2 separate regions of the Homo sapiens genome follow, and region 2 is linked to region 1. Evidence: fine-mapped expression QTL. A gene starts in region 1. The other region holds a variant in brackets. All regions are shown on one strand. Distances are from middle to middle.

The links. PIP is the estimated chance that this variant, and not a neighbour inherited with it, causes the effect.
Region 2: its variant is fine-mapped to the expression of ASB11 in skeletal muscle (GTEx, PIP above 0.99). The same link has a PIP of 0.9 or more in atrial appendage.

Annotation. Positions count from the first base shown.
Region 1 is chrX:15,309,484-15,320,268 of GRCh38, forward strand. It overlaps ASB11 (ankyrin repeat and SOCS box containing 11), which reads right to left and starts at 6,157. Exons shown (of 7, transcript NM_080873.3): 1 at 5,942-6,157. The coding sequence starts at 6,122. PIGA (phosphatidylinositol glycan anchor biosynthesis class A) reads right to left here. Exons shown (of 6, transcript NM_002641.4): 6 at 9,973-10,785.
Region 2 is chrX:15,279,828-15,290,612 of GRCh38, forward strand. It overlaps ASB11 (ankyrin repeat and SOCS box containing 11), which reads right to left. Exons shown (of 7, transcript NM_080873.3): 5 at 9,677-9,811; 6 at 8,054-8,245; 7 at 1,870-3,802. The coding sequence ends at 3,678. Among named protein-coding and RNA genes, the nearest start is that of ASB9, 15 kb to the left of the region's middle. The variant G/C (reference allele first, on the strand shown) is at 3,675.

The DNA.
Region 1 (10,785 bases):
ATATTACAATGTAATAATAATACAAATAAAGTGCACAATAAATGTAATGCACAAGAATCATCCCAAAACCATCCCCCCACACCCTGGTCCATGGAGAAATTGTCTTCCATGAAACCAGTCCCTGGTGCCAAGAAGGTTGGGGACCACTGCTATAAATGGTGTGAAATAAACCAATTGTACCACCCTAAAAGTAGAGATCCAGGGCTGGGTGCAGTGGCTCACGCCTGTAATCCCAGCACTTTGGGAGACTGAGGCGGGTGGATCACGAGGTCAGGAGATCGAGACCATCCTGGCTAACATGGTGAAACCCCATCTCTACTAAATGTACAAAAAAATTAGCCAGGCGTGGTGGCGGGCGCCTGTAGTCCCAGCTACCTGGGAGGCTGAGGCAGGAGAATGGTGTGAACCCGAGAGACGGAGCTCGCAGTGAGCCGAGATCGCGCCACTGCACTCCAGCCTGGGCGACAGAGCAAGACTCCGTCTCAAAAAAAAAAAAAAAAAAAAAAAAGTAGAAGTCCTTTTTGTTTCCCAACTGGAAACGAAGTAACTCTCAAGAAAGTAGCCTTTCTAGTTCCATCATTTCCCAGAACTTGCTTCAAAGGACCTTCAAGGGTTTTCACACAGAACCCTTTTCCAGAAACTGCCACAGTGGGGTCTCCTGCTTTTCTATCCTTGTTCCCAACAGAGTCTCTCACTCTTACCATTCTCATTTTGCAAACTGGAGCTAATTGTGAGAAATTGAGGATAAAAGTTACTTGGCAGCTTGGGAGTTTTTCCATTCCCTTCAGGAAGTATGCAACTGAGCTCTCCAAATAAATGAATGCTTAAGTAGGACTCAATCATTCTCTTCTAAGGCAATCTATTTTTAGTTTTTTGGCAGATCGCCCGTGTCACAGGGCTGCAAACACATTATGAAGATAGTTTACTCTACAAATATGTTTGCTTATTCCTGATGAGGTGTACGGAAAATGTTCAAGTGCTTTTTCATTTCCCCCTTTGAATTTTTCTCAGAATGTGATTTGTATCTCAGACTGTTTGAATGACAACTTCACAACAACTTCTAAAACCGTATATATTTCAATAACATTGGTTCAGATGGAGTACAGCTGTCTAAGTTCCAACCATTTGAGATAAAAAACGATTAAACTGTTTTTGTAATTTTTACTCTAATTTCAACAAGTATTTCAGATTACTGTTTTTTTATTTAAAAAGATGACCCAACAGCCGGGCGCGGTGGCTTATGCCTGTAATCCCAGCACTTTGGGAGGCCAAGGCAGGTGGATAACCTAAGGTCAGGAGTTCGAGACCAGCCTGGCCAACATGGTGAAACCCTGTCTCTACTAAAAATACAAAAATTAGCCAGTGTGGTGGCGGGCGCCTGTACTCCCAGCTACTCAGCAGGCTGAGGCAGGAGAATCACTTGAACCCAGGAGGCAGAGGTTGCAGTGAGCCGAGATCACATCACTGCACTCCAGCTTGGGCAATAAGAGCGAAACTCCAACTCAAAAAATAAAAAATAAAATCATATGAAACAAATCTTCTGTAGCATTTATTAAGGAAAAGAAAATTCATAAGGAATTTTAATTTTGAACCAAAATACAGGCAAGAGCCTAGCAGAATTAATGGTATTTTATGTGAAACAAAGGTAACTGGGAAAATAGAATGTATTTCCTGAGATATCTAAAATATTGTAATAAAACTGAGTTAAAATAAATATTCTCCAGAATGTCCAGTCCTAGAGAGGAGATGAGACACAGTGAGCTGTGTTAGACACAATTAACTATGTTGCAGTGTATTAGAAAGAAGGCTCCTTTGAACTCTTAAGGGCGGGAGAGCTGAGCTAAAGGAGACTGGTGGAAGGTAGAGCCTCTGCCAAGGACTGGTTGTCCCAACCTAGGAAAAGCCAGCAGGCACCTGATATGCAACTTAGAGGATGGTTAGGCCAATGTTTGTGGAGACAACCAGCAAAACTAAATAAGAGCAGAAGGCTAGGTCGAGGTTTGGGCAAGAATGAAACTAAGGCGATCCTATTGGAATGGAAAAGACAGGAAAAAGGATTCAGAATGCTGAGTTAGGCAGAGGCATAGCTGTCAAATCATGGTCAGTCCATCAACAAGTGATTTTAAGCATAAAACTTAGAATAGGACTGATCTTTTAGACACAGCTTAAAATAGCCCTTTTTTTTTTTGAAAGAGGGCACTACAGTTCTACAACGTCTTATCTGCACTTGTAAAGTTCCTCCAATTCTGAAAACCAAGCTTTACCCCAAATTTGATGCAAACTTGTTTAGCAGCAAAGCATGGCCAGGACTTAGGTTAAGCAATTTATTATTTGTTTTATATTTCCATCTAGTGTGAATACCTATATGTTCACTATAGAAAGATCAAAATGTTTGACTGTGGGAGGCAGCTCCAGGCCCCACCAGAAGTGCTGTGCAATAGACAGTATGCACATTGTATGATCTTTCTAACATTCAAAAGCTATTGAATTCTGAAACATGGCTGGCTGAAGGGTTATGAATAACAGATGATCAATCTGTATCTACACTATATTTTCTTTCTTGATGACCAAGTCACAGTACTAAACATAGCTTAATACAAATTAGCAAAGCTTGAAAAATCATACAATACATCTCTCCTGAGAAAGTGCCTGCAGAAATATCTATGGACTGAAGGTGGGATCCAGTGATCCATCTGGTGCTCTAGGCATAACACCAAAGGCCAAGGACAATGTATTAAACTTTAAAAAAGAAAAAAAAATATACATATAATAGACAAAATAAACAAAGAAGCTTAAAAACCAAAACTAATAACAGTCAACCATGGCTTAATTCAACTATGATGAGTGATCAGCAAATGTAATAGTTTAAGCCACAAAGACATATAAAATAATGTATTCCAGACTATGAAATCCACCCCCACCCGCCCACTGCACAAAAAAAAAAAAAAAAAAACAACTTTCCAAAAGGTTTTACAGCACAAAGAATGATATTTAATGAGGCATGTGGTGTTAAATGCAGCTTCCAAAAAAAAAAAAAAAAAAGAGTGCTCTGGACCTACAAAAGTCTAACCTGTGTGCTGGCTAGGTTTTTCCTGCCCTTCCTTGCTTTTGACATTGCTGACAATAGTTTACAGGAATAGCATATGCTAGCAGACTCAAGAAACTTAACCTTGGGCTGGGACTTTTGTAAGTCAATTAGCTAATTTACTGATTAAATGTCATATATTTTCCCAACAAACATTTGTCTGACCAGTGCAAAAGTGACCAAAAGCAAAGGTGATTTCTGGTTTGAGTTTGATTTCTGGTTTGAGTTTAACACTTCCACAAAATTTTGTTCTTGATTTTTAATACACCTAAATATATTGTTATGGGATAATTTAGGAATTAGAGAGACTGAGGGGTTGAGGAGGATTTATTGTTTAGGTGTATTGGCCTAGTTGCATTAATATTTAAAGGACTGGGTTTTGAATAAAGAGTTGTTATTTTTTAAGTATTTTGTGGGGCGGGGGAAGATTTGTAATAATATAGTATCTGACTGTTAACAGTGGTATCAAAAGAAAAACACAGAACCATGTGAAAAATACTGGTCCAGGCATGTTACTGCCTACATTCTTATAGAAAGACTTATTTAGCGGCCAGGCACAGGTGCTCACACCTATAATCCCAGCACTTTGGGAGGCCAAGGTGGGCAGATCACTTGAGGTCAGGAGTTCGAGACCAGCCTGGCCAACATAGCGAAACCCCATCTCTACTAAAAATACAAAAATTAGCCGGGCGTGGTGGCGTGCGCCTATAATCCCAGCTACTCAGGAGGCTGAGGCACGAGAATTGCTTGAACCCCAGAGGAGGAGGTTGCACTGAGCTAAGATCGTGCCACTGAACTCCAGCCTGGGTGACAGAGCAAGAATCCATCTCAAAACAAACAAAAAAACAGAAAGTCTTATTTACCAAATCTTGGTAAATTTGGGGGTGGGGGGATTCGTGTATATGTATACACACACACACACACATATACATATATATATGAAAGAAATAAAACTGGGAAATTAACATGCACCATTCCCTGCCTCTTTAACAATAATTGAAAAATGTTTTTGACCTTAGAATACTATGCTACTTGCAAATTAACCTATTTTAAGAGATTGAACAAGTAAAGATATTTGCACTACAGAATGAACGAACTGTATTTAAGAGATTTGTATTCCAGCTCCAGATTAAATTCAAACCATGCTTACATGGGTTTTGACTATAAGGAGGTTTTATACCTTTTTTAAGAGTGCACTTGAGGCCGGGCGCGGTGGCTCACGCCTGTAATCCCAGCACTTTGCGAGGCCGAGGCGGGCGGATCATGAGGTCAGGAGTTCAAGACCAGCCTGGCCAACATGGTGAAACCCTGTCTCTACTAAAAATACAAAAAAATTAGCTGGGCATGGTGGCGTGTGCCTGTAATCCCAGCTACTCAGGAGGCTAAGACAGGAGAATTGCTTCAACCGGGACCTGGGAGGCGGAGGTTGCAGTGAGCCGAGATGGTGCCACTGCACTCCAGCCTAGGCTACAGAGCGAGACTCCATCTCAAAAAAAAAAAAAAAAAAAAAGAGTGCACTTAATTAAAGACCACAAAGACAGAAATAATGCGCAGGTGCAACAGGAGAAAACATTTGTAACATGTTCTTGCCAATATTGACTTTGTTGGACTTCATCTAATTTAGACCAGAAGAATGATTTATCTATGAGAACACCAAAACTATTATTGAAAATTTTAGAAAGCCCTTGCCCAAATTGACAAATTAAATTAGAAGATAACTTTTCAGATCATGCTTAACTTGAAACTTATCAGAAGCATTACTTTTTTTTTTTTTTTTTGTAACTAGTCAAAGTAACATACCTCCCTGAAATGTGTGACAAATATAATCCCCAAAAGAAATCTCTTTCCATGGTCCGGACCTTCTGATACGTTCTGAAACTTCACAATTCTTCTCATTTTCCCCAGTTAATTGAAGCATTCTGATGCTTCGTCCTTGGAGGTCTTATTTCTTTAGATAAGACTGCTGTTGTCTAGTGTCTTCTGAGTTGTCTAGTGTATTGGAATCACATAAGACTATTTTGAAAGAGAATCCTGGATGCAAATTGAAATGGATACTAGATAAAGAATGATGTAATCCTGGAACCCCTGCAAACACTAAAAATACACGGGGAAATTCTGAACTCTGTTTATGAATAAATACTCCTCTATTAAGTGACAATCCCAGGAGTGACAGGGATATCTGACTCATTTACTTTTGTAGCATCTCACCACAATTAAAGTAAATCATTTCTTGAAAGAAATGGACACTATTCTCTACAAAGCATGAGAATTTAAAATGTTTTGCCCAAATCTTGGCATTTCATGTTAGAATAAACTTTGTTTGGAGTGCTTTGCATGCTACCATATAAAATGGGTTTAGTGAAGAGCTTTTCCTGACAGTGACAAGTGGTTAATCAATTCCAGTTGCAAATGACAGCAAAAAAAATACACATAGCTTGCCACGTTTGCTGCTTTAATTATAATTTATTAGTCATTCTATTTCCTGAGAGAATTTAGTCTGGTTAGAATGCCCTTCATTGTTAAAGTTTGCTTTAAAATATTAAAGAAAATAATTATATACAAGTAATTACTTTGGCTAGTAGAAATGAAGTTTCTCAAAATACTCTTAGTAAGCCACTACCTATTTACTTCTTAAATAACAACTGCTACAAGATCTACGAACTTGCAAAAAATAAAGCTGAAAATCCTCCACAAATTGATGCAGCCAACAGCATTTGCTACTTTAAGTGACAATTTTTCAAACTACCCACTTAAAATCAAAGTATAAATATAATCTGCCTTCCAGAAATACTAGTCATATGAATTATCTAGGAGGGATTTTCTTTAAATATTAGGAACAAATTCATGTACTTTTACCTGAAATTCCACCATAGATCTCTTCTGCTATCCTAGCCGCTTCTTTTCTATTTCCTTTGACGATATAGAAATGGGTTAGGAGAGCCAAAAAAACTTTAATTAAAAGCTTAAAGAAAAAAAACGTAGCAAACATTGTAATAAAAATGTTTTTAAAGCCATAGAAAACAGGACCATCTTCCATTTTGGCTTATGCTCTGTATAGGGTCCTAGGACTGTAAAATTTCACTGAGTTATAATTGGTATCATATGACATCTATTTTAAACCTTCTAGCACTCAGTGCTCCTGTTACCGAGATCTCTGTAGGTTCTAATCTAACTGATTTGGCGACTGCATGTGCTGACTCCACAGCAGTGTTAAATAAACTAAAGAAACTTCCTTCTAACCAGAAACATCCAATAGTTCTAGAACTACATAACTCAGTACTATCTAACAGATAAGATTCATATCCAAACATTTTATATTCCTAAACCCCTATTTTTCCTATTTTATGTTAGAAAGCAGGGTTGGAAAGATAGAAACTTCTTGGCTTCCACAGAAACAAAGCAAGTTATTTGACATACAAAAGAAGTGCAAATATGCTGTATGTTCTAAGTGGGAAATACTACTCCCTGGAGCATTTCATTTTCTCTTAATTCTGAAGTTTATAGAGGATTAAATCCAAATCTAAAATATGACCAGTTAAAAAAGACCATTTACCTGGCCGGGCGCGGTGGTTGACTCCTGTAATCCCAGCACTTTGGGAGGCTGAAGCAGGCGGATCACCTGAGGTCAGGAGTTTGCGACCAGCCTGGCCAACATGGCGAAACCCCCGTCTCTACTAAAAGTACAAAAATTAGCTGGGCGTGGTGGCAGGTGCCTGTAATCCCAGCTACTCAGGAGGCTGAGGCAGGAGAATTGCTTGAACCTGGGAGGCGGAGGTTGCAGTGAGCCGAGATCGCGCCACTGCACTCCAGCCTGGGTGACAAGAGCAAGATTCTGTCTCAAAAAAAAAAAAAAAAAAGACAATTTACCCTAAAGCTGTATGTATGTATGTATGCATGTATGCACGTATGTATGTATTTAGTTTTAAGATGGAGTCTTACTCTGTTGCCCAGGCTGGAGTGCAATGGTGCGATCGCGGCTCACTGCAACCTCTGCCTCCTGGGTTCAAGCGATTCTCCTGCCTCAGCCTCCCAAGAAGCTGGGATTACAGGCATGCGTCACCACGCCTGGATAATTTTCGTATTTTTAGTAGAGACGAGGTTTCGCCATGTTGGCCAGGCTGGTCTCGAACCCCTGACCTCAGGTGATCCACCCACTTTGGCCTCCCAAAGTGCTAGGATTACAGGTGTGAGCCACTGCACCCGGCCAAGCCTGTATTTAATAAAAGGCCTATCTTGGATGCCTCTCCAAGTAAGTGTCACACTAGAAGCATCAGACTACTCGCCATGGTAGTTCCATCTGGGACAAGGTCCCATGGCAAGGTTCCCTCCTGATCATTCACTTGCATTTCAAGCATTGGTAAAGGTGGTGCCCATTTCTGAAAAATGTGGGCTATCCTTGATCATGGAAGAGTCATAGTGAAATGGACAAAAGAGATGCCCTAGGTTCTGGATGAAGTACCCAAATATTTCATGAATCAACCTTCTCTAGTTGGGCAATTTTCTCTTATCAGCTGGCCAACACAAGTGAAATGGGTTTATTTTTAGTTTTCCTCATCACTCTAGGTCTCTGCCTTCATTCTTGGCTATGTTCGATTTTGTAAATTTTAAAAATCAATTGAAAAGACAAGCCAAAATATAGTTATACAAGTGGCCTAATAAATCTTAACAAATGATTTATGCAAAAATATGGGAATTTCTCCTAGCATGCAGGCAAATTAGAATGACTGCCTGGTTAAGAACTGTTTCACTACATTAAAAAGCTGACATGTAAGAATACAATCTTGAGTCACAACATACAGCTCATCGATTTCAGTGTATCAGAGCACTATAAAGACCTTGAGTCGTCTTAACTCTCAAGGAACAGACATTAACATAAGATTTACTTTACTGAGCTTATATTACCTGGTAGAATGCCAGTGTATGAAAATACATGAATACAACTCTTTTAGTCCTTTTCATTTATCTTTCTTCAATTATACTCTAAGTAGGCAATCATTTAGTCATGTCAGACCAGTGATGTACATTGTTCTATAACATTATTCAATCTTGTTTTGGTCTTTTCATTTAAAACATGGCTGTCCTATGTTTTACACGCCAAAAAAGTTGGCCATGAAAAGCTCAACTTTATTAAGGTTCAAATGGGTGTCTATACTATTTCTGAGAGGCCATCTTTTTTTTTTTTTTTTTTTTTTGAGACGGAGTCTCACTCTGACTCCTAGGCTGGAGTGCAGTGGCGCAATCTCGGCTCACTGCAAGCTCCGCCTCCCGGGTTCACGCCATTCTCCTGCCTCAGCCTCCCAAGTAGCTGGGACTACAGGTGCTCGCCACCACGCCCAGCTAATTTTTTGTATTTTTAGTAGACACGGGGTTTCACCGTGTTAGCCGGGATGGTCTCGATATCCTGACCTCGTGATCCGCCCACCTCGGCCTCCCAAAGTGCTGGGATTACAGGCGTGAGCCACCATGCCCGGCAAGACCATCTTTACTATATTTGAACATTACATTTGTGATGGGCATAAAAGGCTACTGATACATAAGGACAGTTGATTCATGCTATCTTTCACAGATGAAATCATCAACAGCACCAAGGTTTCTCAGCCTCAGCACTATTGACATTTTGGGACAGATACATGTGTTGTGGGGGATGGCCCAGAGCATCGCGGAATGCTTAGCAGCAACCCTGACCTCTACTCACTTGATGCCAATGCCCCACCCCACCTAGTAGTAACAACCAGACATTGCCAGATGTCCCCTGGGAAACAAAACTGTCCCCCCAAGCCCTAGTTGAGAACCACTGAGCCATACCCAAATAGAAATGATAAAGGATAAAAATCAGTTCCCCCAAGTACTAAAGGCTACAAATCAAATTCTACATAGAACTTTTTCATAATTTTATATTAAAAAATCCAGCCACAGGATGATACAATTCAACATCTAGCCACATCCATTTGGGAATGCAGAGATGGATAAAGAGGCTTTAAAATTACTTCACAAAAGTAAACACAGACCTATACTACCCTGACTTTGCCAAAAATAAGTTTTGGCATAAGATAAATCAAAACATAAACATAGGTGACTGCTTTCCACTGCTTCCCACAAAAGGAGTGGGAGAAACTAAATCAGGGATGTCCAATCTTTTGGCTTCCCTGGGCCACGCTGGAAGATTTGTCTTGGGCCACACATAAAATACACTAACAGCAGATCATGAGATCAGGAGTTCGAGATCAGCCCGGCCAAAATGGTGAAACCCCATCTCTACTAAAAAATACTAAAGTTAGCCAGTGTGGTGGTGGGCGCCCGTAATCCCAGCTACTCAGGAGGTTGAGGCGGGAGAATCATTTGAACCCGGGAGGCGGAGGTTGCAGTGAGCCAAGATCGTGCCACTGCACTCCAGCCTGGGCAACAAGAGCGAAACTCCGTCTCAAAAATATATAAATAAATAAATGAAAATACCCTAATAGCTGATGAGCTAAAAAAAAAAGAAAGAAAGAAAGAAAGAAAATCACAAGTCTCATAATGTTTTAAGAAAGTTTACAAATTTGTGTTGGGCAAAGTAGAAAGCATAATTATGTAGCTCACATACACAGTATAGTTTGTAGATATTTTCCTTGTCTCACGTGATAATGCTAGGGCAATGAAAAACAAGGGCTTATTTGGGTAAGGAAACAAAGGCACAATTGAACTCGCTATTCCATGAGTGAGAGAGAGAAGATATTCTAGAAACAAAAAATGACAGAGTAATTCATCGCCCAAAGGGTATTTCTTGTTTTACTAATAGACCAAGCAACACATCCAAATTGCACTGAAAAAGAATGTGTCGGGGGCAGGGATAGCCTGTTCCACTAGTAAATAATAGTCTGTTCATAAAATAAGACAAACTCAGAAAATTATCAAAATGTCATTCTGGTCTTTATTTTTGGACATGTAGCATGTTTTAACAAATCAGTTTTTCATAGGCAACCTTTTGAAACATCAAAAGAAATACAATATATTTTTCACAAATTTCTCATCACTGTAAATTCACTTTAAAATCAACTAAGTAGCAGGGTAGAGCAATGTGTTTCCATATACCGACCAGTGCAAACTGACAGTTACAATTAAGGTATCCAGAAAGGTTGAAAATTAAGATTTACGTGAAACAAATTTACTTCCATTTGTTAAAAAAAAGAAAAATAATAATTTGCAAATCACATGTTTTACAGGCAAAGGCAACTAACTTTAGATCTTATTTCCATCTCAAATAAATGACAGTTTAAGAATTAAATGACAATTTAAAAAAATTAAGCAAAAATATAAGGAAAAAATGGTGGCATGCCTCTAAAACCTGTTGAATAGAATAATGGCCAAATATTACAGTTTCTCACTTTCCTATGAATACTGGCACTGTTTATTTCATGTTTATATGTGAGTTTCTATGCATAAAAATCCCAGTAAGACTGAATAGTTTAAAGATCAGTCCATTTTTCTCCAACAAAACCCCTAACTTCTAGATTTTAAAAATTGCACTCTTGCTTTTGCATTTTAGTACAAACAAAACACAAATATATTTCTTTTATATCAGTGCAACCAGTTAATAGGCATGTTATTTTTTAAAAAGTAATAAATTTTGTGAATGTTGTCATTTTTAAAAATCCTATACAGAATCACAACACTGTCAGAATCTATGTAGTGCACCCACAAGTGCCTTATTGTTTTGAATT
Region 2 (10,785 bases), 30 kb before region 1:
CCAGTGAAATTAATTTTAATAATATATTCTATTTAACCTAATATATTGAAAAGATTATTTCATTGTGTGATCAGCAAAAAAGTTTTTTCGTTTAATTTTATTTGGTATGTAATAACTGTATATATTTATGGGGTACAGAGTGATATTTTAATACCTAGAAGTAATCAAATCAGGGTGATTAGCATATCCATCACCTCAATCATTTATCATTTCTGCTATGAACATTCAAAATCTTCTCTTCTAGGTTTTCGAAAATACATAATAAATTATTGTTAACCACATTTACCCTACAGTGCTATGAAACACTAGAAATTATTTCTTCTATCCAATTATAATTTTGTATCCATTAACCAACATTGCCCTATTGTCCCCTCCTCACTACCCTTCCCAGCCTCTAATAAGCATAATTCTACTCTCTGTTTCTGTGAGCTCAATTTTTTTAGCTTCCACATGTAAGCAAGAACATATGGTGTTTATCTTTCTGTGCGTGACTTACTTAACATAATGTCCTCTAGGCTCATCCATGTTGCTGCAAATGACAGAATTTCCTTCTTTTTTAAGGCTGAATAGTATTTCATTTTGTATATATACCACATTTTCTTTATCCATTGATCTGTTGACAGACATTTAAGTTGATTTCATATCTTGCTTTTCTGAATAGAGCTACAATAAACATGGAGGTGCAACTACCTCTTCCATACATTGATTTCCTTTCTTTCTGATAAATATCCAGTAATGGGATTGCTGAATCATACTTGACAACAACAAAACAAATAATCTGATTTTAAAATGGGCAAAGGATCTGAATAGACATTTCTCCAAAAAAAAGACATACAAATGGCCAACAGGTATATGAAAGAATGCTCGACATCACTAATCATCAGGAAAATGCAAATCAAAACCACAATGAGGTATCATCTTACCCCAGTTAGAATGGCTATCCAAAAAATAGAAAATAACAAATGCTGGTGCAGATGTGGAGAAAAGGGAATTCTTATACACTATTGGTGGGAATGTAAATTACCACAACCACTATGGAAAACAGTATGGAAGTTTTCAAAAAATTAAAAATACAACATCAAAAGCTATTAATATTTCAAAACAAAAAAATAAAAAATAAAACAAAAAAAGAAGAGGCAGGTGGACCAGTTGAGGTCAGGAGTTTGAGACCAGCCTGGCCAACATGGTAAAACCCCATCTCTACTAAAAATACCGAAAATTAGCCGGGCATAGTGGCAGATGCCTGCAATCCCAGCTACTCCAGAGGCTGAGGCAGGAGAATCGCTTGAACCTGGGAGGCAGAGGTTGCAGTGAGCCGAGATCGTGCCATTGCACTCAAGCCTGGGTGACAAAAGCAAAACTTCGTCTCAAAAAAGAAAAGAAAAGAAAAAAGTTCATGTATTTCATATTCTTTTTTTTACTCAGTCATTAAAATGTAATATGTATTTTACACGTGCAACACATCTTAATTCAGCCTAGCCACAATTCCTGTGCTCATTAGCCATATGTGGCTAGTAGCTACCGTATTGAATAGCACAGGCTTAGAGGTTGCAATGAGCCAAGGTCATACCATTGCACTCGAGCCTGGATGACAAAAGTGAAACTCCGTCTAAAAAAGAAAACAAAACAAAGTTCATAATGTTTCATATTCTTTTTTTACTCAATCACTAAAATGTAATATGTATTTTACACTTACAACACATCTTAATTCAGCCTATCCACAATTCCTGTGCTCATTAGCCATATGTAGCTAGCAGCTACTGTATTGAATAGCACAGGCTTAGAGAAGGGTTTCTCACTCTTGGCACTATTGACATTTTGTACCTGATAATTCTTTTTTTTGTTTGTTTTTCTTTCTTTCTTTCTTTCTTTTTTTTTTTTTTGTTTTGAGACGGAGTCTCGCTCTGTCACCCAGGCTGGAGTGCAGTGGCGTGATCTTGGCTTACTGCAATCTCCGCCTCCCGGGTTCAAGTGATTCTCCTGCCTCAGCCTCCCAAGTAGCTGGGACTATAGGCACCTGCCACCACGCCTGGCTAACTTTTGTATTTTTAGTAGAGACAGGGTTTCACCATAGTGGCCAGGCGGTTCTCGAACTCCTGACAGTGCGATCTGCCTGCCTCGGCCTCCCAAAATGCTGGGATTACAGGCGTGAGCCACCATGCCCGGCCAGATCTGATAATTCTTTGTTGCTGGCTCCTGTGCACTGTAGGGTGATTAGCTGCATCCCTGATCTCCACCGTCTAGATGATAGTAGCAATTCTCCCCCAGTTGTTGCAACTAAACATGTCTGCAGACATTGACAAATGTCTCAGTGGGAGTGGGGCAAAATTGTCTCCAGTTGAGAGCCAAAGGTCTAGAAAAATTGGGGGAAAAAAAAACATGTGTGAAATGAGTCTTAGGATGATCTGAGAGGGAATTTTCATTTTAGAACTGAATACTGAACCATGACAGTAATACTTACAATAATTAAAAGTCTATCCAGTTCCCATGTTCTAAATTCACAAAAAAGAGAAAGAATAGAGGAAGAGGAGGGGTGACAGAAGGAGAGAGAAATGAGAAGAAGGAGAAGACAGAAAAGGAGAAGCCTCTTTTTATATACCTTTGTGCTTATTTTGGGCCCCTATCCACAGAAAAAAATATTGACCCAGCATTGAGCCCACTTTGGTGGCTGGCATCAGTATGTAATTATTTCAAAAACCCTGAGCATCTTGACTTTGAAAATAAGCCAGTGCTTGGGTTGCAACATGCCTCAGACAATGCCTGTGGGTTCAGGTTGTTGGGGACACCCAGTGTTCTCAATCCTAGAACTGCTTACTTCAAATAACAGCATTTAATATCAGAAGCAATAAGCAATAGATGCCAACCTCTGGGTGCACTGATCTCTTCCAAAGTCTCTCTTATCAACCAGGACCGCAGTAACTGGAAGCCTCAGTTAACTACAATGTTTCTGAAGTCCTTAACTTTATATATGTATATATATATAAAGTCTATATAAATATATATAACTTTATATATAAAGAACTTTGAAAACATATATATATAAGCTTTATACATATATTAAGGACTTTGAAAACATATATGAACTATATATATTAAGGACTTTGAAAACATTAAATATATGAGTGCATGTGTGTGTGTGTATATATATACGTATATATATATACGTATATGTATGTATATATATATACGTATATATATACAAAAAATCAAAATTATACCAGATTTATTCAAGGAAAGAAAGAAAAAAAGTGGGGAAGGGCTGAAGGAAGGAACTAAATCAAGAACATATCTTGGAATACCTAACATTTGTTATAATCTTATCCACCTGAATTTATATGTGTCTATACAATATTCAGAATGTTGACTTTTAGGTACAAGAAGATCCCGAATCATCAAAAAACAGCCTATTGTTTTCACTCTACTTCACAGTTCTTTTAAGTTTCTTAACAACAAGAGCTAAAAGCTAAATGGTTTCTACTTGCCCCTTGGTTAATGAGAACATTAAACTAACCAGGAGTTTCCACTCCTCAAGTGTTCTAGCTCATGGGGGATTTACTTCGACTGAGCTCATTTAAAGATACTAGGAGTCTAAGCTGTTGAGCTTCTACATTAGGTACTCTAGGTACAGCAGACAACAATCTGTGTCATTCCAAGTATCTTCCCAGGAACACTTA[G/C]GACTATTGGTATAGGAGGAATCGTTCGAGTGGCTCTGGCAGATGTAGCTTGTGGATGGCTTGATGACATGCTCGACCGAGACACTTCCGGACACACAGGCGGCAGAGCTGGGAAAGAGCAGGTGGGCCTGAGAGAGAAATAAAAATGGTGTTAACTTCATAGTGGTGGGAGGTGGGGTGGAAGGGGGAAATCAGAGAACTGGAAGAGGCGGAAATTTTCTAAAAGCAGAAGAGAAGCTGGATCTGTATAGGAACTATAGAATGAGGTAGCGGACACTAAATACAGACAGCAGATCCTGATTTGCCCCTCTGGAAGGGATGCATTTCTTTAAGTTAATCTTCCAATGGTACTTGGATTACCAATGTTGAAGAATGAAGCTAACCAGAGGCAAGTTAGGAATGAGGTGTGGGGTCTAAAGGGAATGCATCTCATTCATGTATTGAATGTGCCAATGAAAGTGATACACGGGGCCAGGCACGGTGGCTCACGCCTGTAATCCCAGCACTTTGGGAGGCCAAGGTGGGCGGATCACGAGGTCAGGAGATGGAGACCATCCTGGCTAACACGGTGAAACCCCGTGTCCACTAAAAATACAAAAAATTAGCCGGGTGTGGTGGCGGGTGCCTATAGTCCCAGCTACTCGGGAGGCTGAGGCAGGAGAATGGCGTGAACCCGGGAGGCGGAGCTTGCAGTGAGCCGAGATCGGGCCACTGCACTCCAGCCTGGGCGACAGAGCGAGACTCCGCCTCAAAAAAAAAAAAAAAAAAAGAAAGAAAGAAAGAAAGTAATACACTGGCCAAGGAGAAAATGCAAATGGAAGGACTGAACACGCAGGACTCCAAGACACAGCCACAGAACAGAGGGACAATACGGAAAGGGTGTCAGCGGGAAGTTCCACCTGCGTGGTGACAGAGGCAGTGTTAGGAGATGTGCCAGGGGCCAGATATTCAGCCCTCAAAGTACTCCTGGACCTACCGGCTCTAGCTGCCCATGAGGTGGTGCTGGCTGGGTCTCAACTTAAATCTGAAGAGGCCCTTTATTCTTGCAAGGATTCCAGCTCAATAGAGATCTGCAAGAAGGACTCAAGTCAGACCCTATTGTTCCCTGAAACTGAGTCTCATGGACTCTCAAGGAGTCTCACAGAATCATCATGCCCATGGCTTTGAATGGCTCTGAATCCTTAAGGAAAATCAGCTGATGAGAGTCCAGAATATGGTTGAATAGGATGAATGAGCTTTTGGCTGCAATACTAGTTGCACAGTCATTATTTCCTAACCTGACTGTTATCAGTAAAGATCTCTTCAAGAAAACCTAATTACTGGTCTACACAAAGTTTTCCTTTTCAAAAAAATCCACTGTAACAGCATCTCACACCCCATGAAAAATGATGGACTGCATATGCGAATAGCCAGGTTAACATTTGGCTTCACATTGCCAAGGAGCATCCATGAGATAGAAAGCTACCTGGAGGACCAAACAATCGATCTTAGTTAAAATCTTGGGAAGCAAGAATAGAAAACTTCTTTACCTGTTGTCCTACTTAACCTCCTCTGCAAAATGGTAATGTAGACAAATTGTCCAGTGCCCAGAGACACTGACAGGAGAGTGAACTCTGATGTAGTTGGTATTTAATCTTTCTTTTTTTTTTTTTTTTTTTTTGACAGAATCTCACTCGGTCGCCCAGGCTGAAATGCAGTGGTTCAATCTCAGCTCACTCCAACCTCTGCCTCCCGGGTTTAGGCAGTTCTCTGCCTCAGCCTCCCGGGTAGGTGGGATTACAGGCGGGTGCCACCAAACCCAGCTAATTTTTGTATTTTTAGTAGAGACGGGGTTTCACCATCTTAGCCAGGCTGGTCTTGAACTCCTGACCTCATGGTCTACCCGCCTGGGCCTCCCAAAGTGCTGGGATTACAGGTGTGAGCCACCGCGCCCAGCCAGTATTAATCTTTCTAGAGCAAGTGGCTATATTTATGAAGACAAAGGACAGAGGAGCTAGGCCCTGTCCAGGATATCCAGGTCTACAAATCCTAGTCCTAGAAACATTTTTGATGGAAGAAAATAGGAAATGTGAAAACTTCTATAAACTATAGTCTCTGCTAACAGTTGGAAAGTAGCTGGTATTTCCAAGCTCGGATCTGCTGAGGAAGATCATAATTCTTCTGGTGAAGATTCAAATAAAAGAACAATGATTAATGATCTAGACTATTGAAAATAATCCTGGCCAGGCGCGGTGGCTCACGCCTGAAATCCCTGCACTTTGGGAGGCTGAGGCGGGTGGATCACCTGAGGTCAGGAGTTCGAGACCAGCCTAGCCAACATGATGAAACCCCATCTCTACTAAAAATACAAAAAATTAGCTGGGCGTGGTGGCACGCGCCTGTAATCGCAGCTACTCAGGAGGCTGAAGCAGGAGAATTGCTTGAACCCGGGAGGCGGAGGTTGCAGTGAGCCGAGATCACGCCACTGCACTCCAGCCTGGGCAACAAGAGCAAAACTCCGTCTAAAATAATAATAATAATAATAACAATAATAATAATCTAGACCAGTGGTACGCAAAGTGTGGTCCTCAGACCAGCACCATCAACATCACGTGGGAGCCTGCTAGACATGCAGAGTCACAGGTCCCATCCTAGACCTCCTGAATGAGAATCTGTATTTTAAGGAAATCCTCAAGTGAACTGATATGCATGTTAAATCTTAAGAAGCACTGATTTAGAAAGACTATTCATAAAATGGTTAAAACCAAGCATTCTACTTGGAAGGTATATATGATGTAGTGGTTTCACAAAATGGAACTGGTGAGTGAAATAAGACCCTCCTCACTGAATGTTTCAAAAGATTCAGGGTTGGGGCCTTATGACATTAAGAGTGCACATTCTGATGGCCAGGTGCAGTGGCTCACACCTGTAATCCCAGCACTTTGGAAGGCTGAGGCGGGCGGATCACAATGTCAAGAGATCGAGACCATCCTGGCTAACATGGTGAAACCCCGTCTCTACTAAAAATACAAAAATTAGCTGGGTGTGGTGGTGCACGCCTGTAGTCCCAGCTACTCAGGAGGCTGAGGCAGAAAAATCGCTTGAACCCGGGAGGCAGAGGTTGCAGTGAGCCGAGATCGCACCACTGCACTCCAGCCTGGAGACAGAGTGAGACTCCATCTCAAAAAAAAAAAAAAAAAAAAAAGTGCACACTCTGGGGTCAGATGGCTCAGAATCCTACCTAATTCTATTATGTAGCTAGCTGTGTGACCTTGTCAATGCTTTTCTTTTCCCATTTGTACCTGGCATAGCAACCAGCTACTACCATATAAAGTTCCCACTGCTCTAAAGTTTTAAAAATTCAGTGAGCTTGATCTATGTTTCAAATTTAGCCCAGTGCCTGGCATACGTAGAGCTGAATAATTATAATTATCTTTAATATTCTTCAGGCACACAAATAATCAATATAGGCTCCGAAAATATTTTCTTACTGTATAGACATAAGAGGTTCTCTTCTGAATTGGTTCTCTTCTGAATTTCAGATGCTCGCCTTACCTCTTCTGGCATCAGTAGTTGCTCTTAATGCTCATGGTGGAAACGGGAATGAAGCAATGAAGAATGCAGACCCACCTACTCCCTGATCTGGAGAACAGGCAAACAACCTCACCATTTAGTCGGATTTCTGAAATACTCTGTGTCCTCCCCTACAGACTCTGACTCAAGTCTTTTGAATTTGCCATCAGATTGTCTCCCAATATTACAAAGCAGAGTTTTGGTTTGCTCAATCATACGCTTATGCCAGGACAGAAATGGAAATTCAAGATTTTCGGGGTATAAACAAGGTTTTCTGGTTTTCTTTTTTTTGAGACGGAGTCTCGCTCTGTCACCCAGGCTGGAATGCAGTGGTGTGATCTCTGCTCATCGCAACCTCCGCCTCCCAGGTTCAAGCGATTCTCCTGCCTCAGCCTCCCAAGTAGCTGGAACTACAGGCGCCAGCCACCACATCTGGCTAATTTCTGTATTTTTAGTAGAGACAGGATTTCACCATGCTGGCCAGGCTGGTCTCAAACTCCTGACCTTGTGATCCACCCGCCTCAGCCTCCCAAAGTGCTGGGATTACAGGCGTGAGCCACCACGCCCAGCCGGTTTTCTGGTTATTTTCTTGTTATATAAAATACAAAGCAACACTCTGGTTATAGGTAAATGCCCTTTGGTTGTTAGTGAATATACACAGCATATAAAATCCCAGAAGACAGGTCAGTGACGGCAGGGCCTATCACCTCCCACAATGCCACCTTCAATTAAAAAGAGAAAAGAAAAAGGAAAAAATGCTACAGATGAGACAGGAAGGGGAGAGAATGTGCTTATGGAAGAGGAATGGATACCCAGCCCTTGGTTACCTTCACGGAGCAAGAGTGCCTGCTCCACGCTGCTTTTTGGAGCCGCCAGATCAAGCGCACTTTTGCCCTGAGCATTTCTACGCTTCAGGTTAGCTCCATAGTCGGTTAGCAGGTGGATGACCTCCACATTGGACTGCCTCGCTGCAGCATGGAGTGGGGTGTCCAGCCACTGGCCATGGTCGACACTGGCTCCTTAACAAAACAGATGGCCACAATTCAACACTAAATGTAATGTAAAGCACAATGAGCTTCAAATATAGTCATTGCATATAAAGACATTTTAAGTACCATGACATACTTGACAAATGTTTGAAAATATGCAACTCAAGCCTAGAACCTCAGCAATGCCTACTAAGACTACTTGAAATTCTTTGGTGAGAAAAGTGAATTTAGATAGTTTTAGTCATTTTAAATACTTGCTTTCCCGTATAAACTGTGTGGCATACAAAATAAAGTATTTGAGGCTCCTGTTACATAGTTATTATGTTTTGGGACAAAAGATAAAGCTAAGTTTATTTAGTATTTATATTATTTGGGGCTCAAAAAATGATTTCTGAACTTACTATAGAGAATAGTAAATGATGGGAAATAAAAAAGACAAAAACTTCCTCAAGATAAAAATTCACAACTAAAGGTTTTTACTAAATCTCCACCTTTATGTCAGGGGCTAAGTTTGTTGAATCTTTAACCAAAGAATAGTTTCAAGATATTTCATTTTTCCGGCCGGGCACAGTGGCTCACACCTGTAATCCCAGCACTTTGGGAGACTGAGGAAGGTGGATCACCTGAGGTCAGGAGTTCGAGACCAGCCTGGCCAACATGGTAAAATCCTGTCTCTACTAAAAATACAATAAATTAGCCGGGTGTAGTGGTGTGCGTCTGTAATCCCAGCTACTCCGGCGGCTAGGGCAGGAGAATCGCTTAAACCCTGGAGGTGGAGGTTGCAGTGAGCTGAGGTCACGCCATTGCACTCCAACCTGGGCAATAAGAGCGAAACTTCATCTCAAAAAAAAAAAAGATATTTCATTTTTCCACGGACTCTTGGTTTCTGTATATGCCTTTTAGAATTGCTTTTAAAATGACTAGATACTGTAGCAGGATAGATATAAACTAGCCTGTAGCAAATGTCTGTTTTTACCGTCCAGCATCTTCCTGGCAAGCATACCTAGATTTCCCAAAGGTAAACCACCCTCTTGTTAGTTTCAGTTCTCGTGTTTCCAGTGAAGCCTAATAAATGCAGAGTAGGCTGAAATCTAGGCCTAAACTAATCAATATATTGTATTCCCTTGGCCCCCATGAGGGGTTCAAAGATGGGCATGTGACTTAAAAAGAGCCAATGCTCTTTCTTGCTGCGTATGGATAAGGAGGGCTGTAAGCCCAGGTATTGCTGGCAGCTATCTTGTGACAACCAGGGAGAACAATACCAGGTAAATGGAGTTAACATCAAAGGAAGCAGGACTGAGAAATACAGACACTCATTTCTCTAGAGAAGTTTTGTTTTTAGCATTCAAACATAAAATGCTAACCGAATATTTTTCAACCATGACAAGAACTTCATCTTTGAAGCTGTAGAAAATCAACAAAGTTAACAGGTTTCTTCATGAAAATAATTTTGGAAATTACCTAATTCTAGAAGTTTCTTCACACAGTCTACCCTCTGGTAGGTGCAGGCCACATATAGGGGAGTTCCGAGCTGAGGCACCTCATGGTCAATGTTAACATTATTTGCCAGCAGGATCTCCATGCACTCTCTGTGACCTGGTGGAACACAAGATACCCTCACTCAAGTAAGGGACATATTAAATATTAACAGAATTATAGGATTGCTTATCTGAAATGGGCTTTAGAAATAACCTAGGTTGGCCGGGTGTGGTGGCTCACGCCTGTAATCTCAGCTTTTTGGGAGGCTGAGACCGGCGGATTCCCTGAGGTCAGGAGTTCGAGACCAGCCTGGCCAACATGGTGAAACCCCATCTCTACTAAAAATACAAAAATTAGCTGGGCATGGTGGCACACACCCATAATCCCAGCTACTCGGGAAGCTGAGGCAGGAGAATCACTTGAACCGGGGAGGAGGAGGTTACAGTGAGCCGAGATAGCGCCACTGCACTCCAGCCTGGCCGACAAAGCGAGACTCTGTCTCAAAATAAATAAATAAATAAATTAATTAAATAACCTAGATCTCTTTTTGTAGCATAAAAACATTTTTGTGTTTGTTTTTGGAAATCTTAGGTAGAAACCACCAAAATAATACCAATAAAAAGAGGAGCATGCCCATGCTTCCCCACTCCAGCTCCTCTTTACAGCCCAAGTTAACTTTAACTGAACTAAGGGCTCCAAGTAGCACAGTTGAAATCACTCTCCAGAATGATGCCACCATTTTACAAATGGAAGTGACAAGACCCAGAGGGACAAACGACTAGGCCTATTATTACTCTGAAAAGCTAGTGCTCAAACCCAAGAGAACCCTGTCGCCTCTCCATTACAAATCTCTCATTCTCTTCTTTATCCATGCATGTGAGATTGGATATATGGCCTGCAACAGTACTTTGGTTAGTCTGAAAAATACCTATGAGAAAGAATAAAGAAGTCTTAAGTATAGAATATATTTAAATACACTTTCATATTCAGTGGCTAACAACAACTATGTAAGCAAGCATTCTCTTTTGAGAGTTTGCCCAATAAATAGATAGACATGATAAATTTGCAACCTGTGAATGCTTTGTTCAGGA